Linked DNA regions of Homo sapiens: region 2 is linked to region 1. Evidence: fine-mapped expression QTL. Tissue or cell type: whole blood. Region 1 holds a variant in brackets; the other region holds the start of a gene. All regions are shown on one strand. Distances are between the middles of the regions.

Region 1 (5,144 bases):
GGAGAAGATGTTTCCAGATATGTTTCTGCAGGGAACAGGGGACAACTGAGATGGGGTCTTAGGGTGTCCATGGGCCGGCGGAGGAGAGCAGGTGGGATGTGGAAGGGTTGGGGGCCACATTTTGCTTCCTATGCACTTCTTCCCTCTCCTCCCCTCCCCACTTCTCACCCCATCACTTACAGTCGGAGAAGCCTGGGGAGGCCCTGGAAGGTCTCGGAGGTGAGACAGCCAATCCGGTTGTTGGAGAGATCTCTAGAGAGACACAGGCAACCTCAGCATGTTGGCCACGTGGCAGCACGTGGGTCCACTTGTGAGGAACACATGGGTGGGGCCAGGGCTTGTGTTGGGGGGTGGGATGAAAAAGGAGATGAGGTTGGGGCCAGGCCGCAGCTGGACTGGAAATGCCAGCTCCTTTGACCCCAGCCAAGGCACCCAAGCGGAAAGGAGGGGCAGGTGTGGGGGGGTGAGAGGAAGGGGGTGGGCATGGAGCAGGAGGGGTGACTTTCTCCCTCGGGAGGGGAGGGGTGGGGTCAGGGGAGGGCGTGCCACTCACAAACGCTTCAGCTCCCCCAGGCCCAGGAAGGCGCCCGGCTGCACTGTGCTGATGATGTTGTTCCTCAGGTCCCTGCAGAGGCAAGTGCAGAGGCCCTCACACCTCTCCCCGCTGGAGCCGCCCTGCTCCCCGGGAGGGGTCCTCACTGTCACCACGGTGTTGTTGCTGGGTTTCTCAGGGACTTGACTTCCTGCTAAACCTCTGCTCTCCTCAGCACCGGGTGGGAGGTGGGATTAAAGAACCACCCCTGATCAAGGCCATCCTGGCCAACATGGTGAAACCCCGTCTCTACTAAAAATACAAAAAAAAAAAAAAAAAATTAGCCAGGTGTGGCAGTGTGCACCTGTAGCCCCAGCTAGGCAGGAGAATTGCTTGAACCCGGGAGGCGGAGGCTGCAGGGAGCCAAGATCGCGCCACTGCACTCCAGCCTGGGCGACAGAGCGAGACTCCATCTCAAAAAAAAAAAAAAAAAAAAAAAGAACCACCCCCTCGGACAGGCCTCCTCCGCCTCCCTGGCTACCATCAGCGGGCACTGGTCAGAACAGAGAGAGGAGACGAAGAAGCCAAGAGATGGGATCACAAGGGCCTCAGACAACATGGAGAGCGTCCTGGATTGGAAGTTAGGAGGCCTCCTTTCCCACCCTGCCCCACCTCCGGACTGCCCTGCAGGTCGCTGGGGTTGCCCTGGGAAGCATTTGAAAATAGGTGTCATGGTGTTTTGTAAATTGCTATGCAAAGGTAGAAGCTTCTTGAGCCTGGCCTTTGTGGGCAGGGGAGGGGACGCATGGGAGGGGTAGTTGTTTTGTTTTGTTTTGTTTTTGAGGCTGGGTCTCTCTGTCATCCAGGCTGGAGTGCAGTGGTGTGATCATGGCTCATTGTAACCTCAAATTCCTGGGCCCAAGCCATCCTCCAACCTCTGCCTCCCAAGCAACTGGCACCACAGGTGTGCGCCACCACACCCGCTAATTTAAAAAAAAAAATTTTTTTTGGTAGAGACAGGGTCCCACTATGTTGCCCAGGCTGGTCTTGAACTCCTGGGCTCAAGTGATCCTCCCTCCTGGGCCTCCCAAAGTGCTGGGGTTACAGGTGTGAGCCACCGCGCTTGGCCAAGGAGGGTATTTTTATGGCTGTTTTATCCCTGTGCCCCTCTCTGTCTGACAGGCGAGGAAACAGGTCAGGCGGCTGGCCGAGGCCCAGGTGGACTCTGCCTGGCTCCTCTCCAGGGCAGGGGTGTAAGTCCTGTCCAGCCTCCTCCTTCAGATGAGGAAGCCAGGGAAGTGACAGCTTGTTCAAGGTCCTCAGTCCTGTCTTCTCCATGGGTCTCCGCAGGAGCCCGCAGTGTCGGGAGACAGGACAGAAGGGGGCTGTGACCCCCCAGGGATCCCAGGGGCCAAGCCTGGCCTGGAGGAGTGAGCGGCAGGTAAGTCCGCAGCCTTCCAGCCCTGAGTCTGTGGCTCAAATTCAATCATGGCCTAGGCACAACTCTCTGCCCCCTTCCTCACCTGCCCCTGGGGCTGCAGGGACAGTGCTGAGGAGACAGTGCCCACCCACAGGCGACCTGCTGGGTATCTGCCTGCCCTAACCCCACACCTGCCAGGGCAGCCCCCTGGGCTCTTGGGGCAGGCAGGACCACAGAAGACCAAGGTGGGTGCCTGCTCACTGGCCTTCTCCCTCACCCTGTCCTCTGTGCCCTGCACAGCCAGGGACAGATGCCTAGAAGGCAGAGTGGGTGGGGCCAGTTGCCCACCTACTCAAAGGCCAGCTGGCTCTTTCCTGAGCTAAACCAGGACAGGCTTCAGGCTCCATAGAGCTCATGGGCCTCACAGCCCAGTGGGCCTCCCTGTGCTGGGTCTGAGATGGAGGCAGTGGCCTCTTGGCTCCCACCCACTGGCAGGAGATTGTGAGGCAGCAGGCAAGGGTGGGTGGACCCCTGGAGCAGGCAAGGGTGGGGGCCCCCTGTCTGAAGGGGCTGTGGCGGGAAGACAGGAGATCCACAGAGATTTCTGGGGCCCACTTGCTTTCCCAGGCCTTACCACCCCTCAGCCCAGATGGAGGAGGGGGTCAGGGTTGGGGGCTGAGGGGACTCTTGGCCCTGCCACCCCTCAGCCCAGATGGAGGAGGAGGTCAGGGGTGGGGGGCTGAGGAGGCTCTTGGCCCTGCCCACCACAACCTCATCAACGTCTCTGGATTACTGGGCAGGAGGGGGTTAACCAAGCCGGCTGCCCGCTGGGAGGAGAGGAAATGGGTGTTCAGGA[C/T]GGGGAGGTACTGTCCCACCAGGGGGCCTGTTTGTGCACAGTCCCGCTTGGGGACAGAAACACTGTGCACAGCCCTTCCCACGGCCAGGGGAGCCCTCACCCTCAGCTCCTTCCCATAGGAAGGACTCGAAGGACTCAGCCGGCCTCCATGACCCCAAGTCCCTGGAGAAGGAAGGGAAGGGGCCACCAGAAGGGGCCAGTTCCCTAGAGGAGGGATGGCTTCCATGCTGGGGTGTGCTGGGAGGTGCCCCCCAGTGAGGCGCACACAGGGACCGTGCCAGGACACTGATCCTAGGCCCCTGGCCGAGGGAGAGGGATGCAGGATAAGTATCCTGGCTGCCAGGGGTGCCCCTCTGGCCCAGCCCCCACCGTTTTGCCGCCAGACCCCATCCTCACTGCCTGCCCCTCTGGGACTGTCCCAGCATGTGCCCCCTGGCCCCTGTTGGGGTCTGGCCATTCTCAGGGCTCAGCCTCCCACCCCCACGTGGGGGACGGGCAGAGGGAAACACATTCCTCATTGTGTCACTTCCCTTCATGGGCTGCCAAGGGGCTTAGGCGCAGCCCCCCTTCCCTCCCCGCTCACTTGTGTTTATTCTCATTTCCTCCCCGGGCCCCCTCAAAAGCCCCCACCCGCCTGCCCCACTGATGCTCTGCAGATGGGAGCGAGGCGGCGTCCAGGCCCCAGCCCCTCTTCCTGCCCTCGATTTCCTGCAGCCCAGCCATGCTGGGGCCTTGGAGAGGGCACCTCCACCTCCACGGAGGGTGGGCATGCCTTCTCCCTTGCCTCAAGCCCGCCTGGGGAGGAGCCTCGGGGTGACCAAGGCAGCCCCCACGAGTGCCCTTGGGAGCTGGCCTGTCTCGGCTCCCTGGGCTGAGCTCTGAGAGCCTGAAGGACCCATGGGAAGCCGATGCTGCCTGGTCCCTCTGGGTAAGAAGCTGTGTCCTCCCTCGGGGCGGGAGAAATGCTACCATAAGACTTGGACATTTTTGGGACCTGCAGGTCTCCTATAGATTGGTTGTTTTGAGCCTTTTTTTTCTTAGCACATCCTTTTGAAGATCTACGAAGGCCATGAACTTCTGCCCGAGAAAAACTCACTACACCCATCACTATGCATACAATTTCCAGAGGGGCATAGAGCCCAAGTTAAGAAGCCCCGGCCGGGTGCGGTGGCTCACACCTGTAATCCCTGCACTTTGGGAGGCCGAGGTAGGCAGATCACCTGAGGTCAGGAGTTCGAGACCAGCCTGGCCAACATGGTGAAACCCCGTCTCTACTAAAAAAAAAAAAAAAAAATTTAGCCAATGTGGGGGTGGGCGCCTGTAATTCCAGCTACATGGGAGGCTGAGGCAGGAGAATCACCTGAACCTGGGAGGTGGAGGTTGCAGTGAGCTGAGATTTCGCCACTGCTGCACGCCAGCCTGGACGACAGAGTGAGACTCTTAAAAAAAAAATGACAGAAGTCCTTTGCTGGATGGTCTGATCTGATCCCTCCGTTTCTCAGGTGAAGCTAGAGTAGCTTGTGGAAGCACGCGCAGATATGCTTCCACAGAGCCCTGTCCTTGGAACCTGGGAAAGACGCAGGGTGTTGAAGGCACTTCCCCTCCCTGCTACCCATTGCCCCTTGACTCCAGGCCACCCCCTCCCTGTATCTCTGTCAATATGCAGGAGGATTCCCCTAAGCCAGATGTGGAGGGAGGATTCCTGGGAGCAAATCATGCCCTATGCCGTTGTTGGGAAAACAGAGGCTTTGGGAGCTGAGTGTGTAAGAGTGAGTTTGTGAGCAGAAGCAATGAAAGGAGGAGGGAGTAACGGATGAATAAAAGTTCAGAAAAAGCAAAACGGGGTGAAATAGGAAACAAAGCAGATTGTTAAGTTGAATTTAATAACAACTTAAAAATTTTACACCTTTGGCCAGGTGAGTGGCTCATGCCTATAATCCCAGCACTTTGGGAGGCTGAGGCAGGTGGATCACCTAAGGTCAGGAGTTCGAGACCAGCCTGGCTAACATGTTGAAACCTTGTCTCTACTAAAAATACAAAAAATTAGCCGTGTGTGGTGGCGGGAGCCTTGTAATCTCAGCTATTCAGGAGGCTGAGGCAGGAGAATCGCTTGAACCCGGGAGGTGGAGGTTGCAGTGAGCTGAGATCACACCATTGCACTCCAGCCTGGGCAACAAGAGCAAAACTCAGTCTCAAAAAAAAAAAAAAAAAAAAATTGCACCTTAGAGGATACCATCAAGAAAGTGAAAGAGAACCACAAAATGAGAGAAAATATTTGCAAATCAGATCTGATAAGGGATGTCTATCTAGAATATACACAGAACTCTTACAACTCA
Region 2 (5,144 bases), 31 kb after region 1:
CAAACCCCAGCGGACAGTCAGAGAGAGCTGCCCTGAACAGCCACAGGTGCCTTCCCTGGCCACAGCCTTACCCTGAGCAGCAGGGAGGCGGCAGCGAGCAGACACACCGCCTCCACCCTTAAGGCACACACATGCACACACACACCCGGGCCGGGGAAAATGCAGGCCGGGCGGCCAGCGTCAGAGGCTGACCAGTTGTGTCCTGTCAGGAAGCGGGCAGCCTCTGAACTCACCCAACCAGAGGCGTTACTGTATTGTTCTGGACACAATCGAAAAGACTGGGCCAGCCCCGACTGCGGGCAAGGGGCGGTGGAGAAACGGTTGCCACTGGGGTCAGGAGGACAGGGAAAGGGAAGCGGCTCTTAGGCTGGATTTGGGACAGGAAAGGAAGCGGCGGCCGCGGGGGCCCGACCCTCAAATCCACGGCGTGCGTGGAGCTGCGAGCACGTGGTCGGCGCAGGAAATCTCTGCGGTGGGGAGGGGTCGCCAATGCTCGCGCGGCTGCTGGGACTTGCGACCCCCTTGTAGGAGGCTTGGGGTCGGGCTGCGGCGCTGCAGCGCTCGCTGCCAGCAAAGCAAAGGCGTACTGAGGCCCTGACTAAGAGGGAAGTCGCGGAAGGAGGCCCGGGTGGGCTGCGGTGAGGGAACCCCGCTTCCCCAGCCGCGTTTCTTTCTTCGCAATCTTTGCGCGAAGTCAATGGAGAAACAGCCAAAGCTCGAGTTACTTCCAGGAGAGGCAAAGGAGAGGCAAGGACGCGGGACCCAGCACAGAGCTCACTGCACAAACGGCGCCGTGGGAGAGGGGCCTCTAGAGGGATGGGGACGCCAGGGTCTCCTGCAGCCCAGGAGCGCCGGTATTCCAAGGGCCGACTTTTCTGAGCCCAGCCTCCCCTTGCCCTAAGGAGACCGGCTGGAAGCGGCGCTGGCAGGCCAGGGGGCAAGGATGGGATGACCCCAATTGAAGGGACAAGGCCAGCCAGGTAAATCCGGAGACTCCTCCAGCCCAGTCCGGGACGCGACCGTAGTGGTTAGGACCACAGCCCCCTCCTGGGCCACGAGCGTCGATCTTTCCTGAGCATTCCCCGCTCTCACCCTTCTCAGGTCCCCAAAGTCCGCAACCCTAGTCCAGGCTGGAAATCCGGGGCGTGGGTGCCCTGCAGGCGTGCTCTCCACTTCACCTGTGCAGGTGAGTGGGCGCCTGCGGTGCCTTTCTCTGGGGTGCGCCTGTCCCCCGCAGCCCCTTCCCGCCTCCACGCTCCTGGAGCCCCAGTCTCTCCCCTGCTCCTCCAATCTTCCCCTCTGGGGGCCTGAACCCAGGCCTGTCCAGAAATCTCTGAAGTGGGGGGATAGCCCCCTTCCCCCTGCTCCCACCCCTCCCGTCTCGCCTCCCTTCGTCCCCAGTCCCGGCTCGGACGGAACTGGCCTGGTAGGGTACTCACAGGGTAACGGTGCCGTTAGGCAGAAGGCCGGGCTCGGGAGGCTCCGGGAGGTCCCCGCCGCTGCACACCACCCTCCGCCGAGCCGGGCCAGGGACGCCGCCGCTCAGCCCCTTGGGCCGCTCCCCCGAGCACTTGCAGCTGCGGATGGATAGCGGGCAGCCGGGCGCGCCCCGAGCCTCGGGCGCCAGGAGCAGCAGGAGCCACGGCAGCAGCGGCAGCAGCAGGCGCGCGGGCGCCCCCCGCATCCTGCGTCCCCCGGCGCCCATCAACCCATCGCCCCGCGGGGACCCACAGCGCTGGGGCCGGGCTGCGCGCCGGCCGGAGGGACCCAGGCGTGCGGGAGGAGTGCTCAGCGGGGGCCCGGGGCTCCCGAGGGCGTGGAGGGGGGCCCTGGGCGGAGGCGAGCCCCGGGGTCCCCGCCGCCGCGCCCCGGGGGCATGTCCTGCGAGCGCCCCGGCGGGGAGGACGTCGGCGCGGCTGTCAGCGCAGCGCGGGCAGCTCCCAGCTGCGCGGCCGGAGTCTCAGCGCCCGGCCCTCGGGACACTGGAGGCCCGGCCCCTCCGCGTCGCCTGCTCGCTGGGCGCTGGGCTGGGACCTAGCGGATCGCGCCGGGCTCCTGCTGCCGCCGCCGCCGCCGCTCCGTGCCATGGATGGAGGCAGCTCCGCGCCGCGCCGCTCCCGCCGCCGGTCCCCGCCCGCCCGGGCCTTCCGCGGGGCCCTAGCGCCGACCGACACGCGGCCAGGCCTAGACCCTCTGCCGAGTGGGGGCGGGCCAGCTGGTTCGAGGACCCTGCGTCCCCGCGCCCGCCCTGCACCAACACTCCTCTCCCGCTTGTCCCCGCGCCCCGGGCCAGGACCCTTCCTTTCCGCAACCCATCTCAGACCTCTGAGCCGACCACCACCACCTTCCACAAAATTTCCCTCGTCCGTGCCGGTGCAGCTTGCGTCTCCAGGCTGCTGGGGCCCTCCTGGACCCGCGGGCTTGGACAGAGACGTCTGGGGCGCCCTGTTTTGGGTTGAACTTGGTGGAAGGCTCCGAGGTTTCCTTTGGCCCCTGACACGATGATCAGTCTGGAAGTCGGCTCTCACTCTCCTTCCAGCTCCGGTGGAGGCAGCCGCAGGAGGATGGCAGCCGAGACAAGGAGGCAGCAGACCCTCCTCCGCTGCGGTGACCTCGCTCAGCGGGGGGTGCATGTCATTCGGCCAAGGAGAGGTCAAAGGCCAAGGCAGACAAGGCTAGAGGCTAGACTGGGCCTCCTACATTTTCCACAACGCTGTGTGTGTGTGTGTGTGTGTGTGTGTGTGTGTTTCGGGGACAGTGAGTGGGACAAGGGAAAAGTAGATGAGAAGGAGCAGGGCTTTGCAGCAGGGTGTGGAAAGAGCACTGCGCAGTGAGTCTGGAGACCCCTATTCCAGACTCGGCTCTGCCTCTCATTACTGTCTGACCTTGGACACAGCCCCTAGCTTGCTGGGGTAGCAGATCTCTGGGGTTGAAATGGGGCTCTGCCTGCTCCCCAGTTTATAGAGTGGCATTAGATGCCCAGTAAATCGTGGCATTAGAATAAGAGAGTGTGGTGGGGGGGAGGGGCACATGGTTTCCAAAGGCAGAGGACTGGTGGTGGCAGGGGTGACCTTGACAACTAGTGGTGGGTATAAAGCTGCCTGCAGGCCGGGCGCGGTGGCTGACACCTGTAATCCCAGCACTTTTCGAGGCCGAGGCGGGCGGATCACTTGAGGTGAGGAGTTTGAGATCCACCTGGCCAAAATGATGAAACCCTGTCTGTACTAAATATACAAAAATTATCCGGGCGTCGTGGTGGGCGCCTGTAATCCCAGCTACTTGGGAGGCTGAGGCACGAGAATTGCTTGAACCCAGGAGGCGGAGGTTGCAGTGAGCTGAGAGCGTGCCACTGCACTGCAGCCTGGTGACAAAGTGAGACTCCGTCTCAATAAATAAATAAATTAATTAAAAAAAAAACAGCCTGCAGTACACCGGAACCAGGGCTGGGGACAGGCAGTAAGAAGTGCAGCCCAGGGGTCTGCTTCCTCTGTTTCCCCACAGAAGCTCACCTTTCTGTTGCTTAATAGAGCTGCCGGGATGGGGCAGGACTCCCGTTCCCCCTCCTTCACTCTACCACCCAAGCGGTCCCCAAGGTGAATGCCACATTCTTTAGTGAGCTTAGCCCTGCTGATGTGCGGTGGTGCCTTTTCTAGGGCCCCTGTGCCTGTCAGCCAAGTCTACCCTGACTATGCAGGGAATGGCTTTCTTCTCTTGCCCGTTGGCGTTGGCGGCAGGCAGGGGCCTAGATGTTGGCTTCTTCACTTTCCCTCCCTGGCTCCACAGATCTCCCCCAGTTGCAGGCTCTCTGGTTCCTTGAACTTCCAAAGATAAATAAATAGTGATTGCAAATGGAGGAAGGGAGAAGGGGAATGGACTCCCCCAGCAGGAGCCCTCACAGGCGGTGGCCCAGGCTGCATTCCTCAGGAAAGAGCTGACAGCAGAGCCACAGCCCATAGGCAGGGCTGTGCAGCCCTCCTGCTCACAGGCAAGGAAGACTCTGAGATCTCTGGCCTGGGTCATATAGCTTTTCTGTGATTTCCTTTGGCTAAATGAAGACACTCAAAGTCTAAAGAAGAATTCTACTGGAACACCCACTCCTGGAGGCTGAACAGAGGCCAAAGGACATTTAATGAGGCGAGGCTTCCCCACCACTAGGAATGAAATGTCTGATGGAGACATCTACAAAACACTGGACTGTCCTGAGGGTCACCACATTTGACTTCTTACCCACCCAGGGAGGTGATGAAGTGGAGGTTACTTTCTTATTTTGCAAGTATGGATGAAGAAACTGAGTCACTGAGACTAGAGTCCAAGGGTAGGAACTTACTTTCTGATTCCTTTTTTTGTGTATGTGTGAGACAAGGTCTCTCTCTGTCACCCAGGCTGGAGTGCAGTGGCAGGAACACGGCAGCCTCGATCTCCTGGGTTCAATCCTCCCACCTCCGCCTCCCAAGTAGCTGGAACTACAGGTTTGTTATTGCATGCAACTAATTTTTTTTAATGTTTTGTAGAGATGGGGATCTCGCCATGTTGCCCAGGCTGGTCTCAAACTCCTGGACTCCAGCAATCTGCCTGACTTGGCCTCCCAAAGTGCTGGGATTACAGGTGTGAGCCACCATGCCTGGCCATGAGCATGTTTGTCTGTTTGTTTGTTTGTTTGTTTGTGATGGAGTCTAGCTCTGTCACCCATGCTGGAGTGCAGTGGCACAATCTCAGCTCACTGCAACCTCTACCTCCTGGGTTCAAGTGATTCTCCTGTCACAGCCTCCCAAGTAGCTGGGATTACAGGCGCCTGCCACCATGCCTGGCTAATTTTTGTATTTTTAGGAGAGACAGGGTTTCACCATATTGGCCAGGCTGGTCTCAAACTCCTGACCTCAGGTGATCCACTCGCCTTGGCCTCCCAAAGTTCTGGGATTATAGGAGTGAGCCACCGCAACCTGCCATGAGCATGTTTTAATCCTTTTTTCTTCTTATTTCTAGTATACCGTGCCCGGCCATGGTTCCTTTTTAAGTGCTTTCTTCTCTGAGCCACAGGGAGACTTTCCCCTGGGAAGCTTCCTGCAGACCTCTCCTCAGAGGTGCAGTGAGGAGTGAATGAATTGCCCACATCAAAATCTTTTTGTTTTGAGGTTTGTTTGAGA

What was found. PIP is the estimated chance that this variant, and not a neighbour inherited with it, causes the effect.
Region 2: ADGRA2 starts here. The variant in region 1 is fine-mapped to the expression of ADGRA2 in whole blood (TOPMed, PIP above 0.99).

What each region holds. Positions count from the first base shown.
Region 1 is chr8:37,824,369-37,829,512 of GRCh38, reverse strand. It overlaps ADGRA2 (adhesion G protein-coupled receptor A2), which reads right to left. Exons shown (of 19, transcript NM_032777.10): 3 at 554-625; 4 at 181-252; 5 at 1-25. Among named protein-coding and RNA genes, the nearest start is that of BRF2, 23 kb to the left of the region's middle. RefSeq lists enhancers at 399-1,367, 1,684-3,941. The variant C/T (reference allele first, on the strand shown) is at 2,809.
Region 2 is chr8:37,793,830-37,798,973 of GRCh38, reverse strand. ADGRA2 (adhesion G protein-coupled receptor A2) reads right to left here and starts at 2,091. Exons shown (of 19, transcript NM_032777.10): 1 at 1,440-2,091. The coding sequence starts at 1,705. RefSeq lists silencers at 1,477-1,566, 1,847-2,016, 2,027-2,266 and enhancers at 2,530-3,095, 3,096-3,661.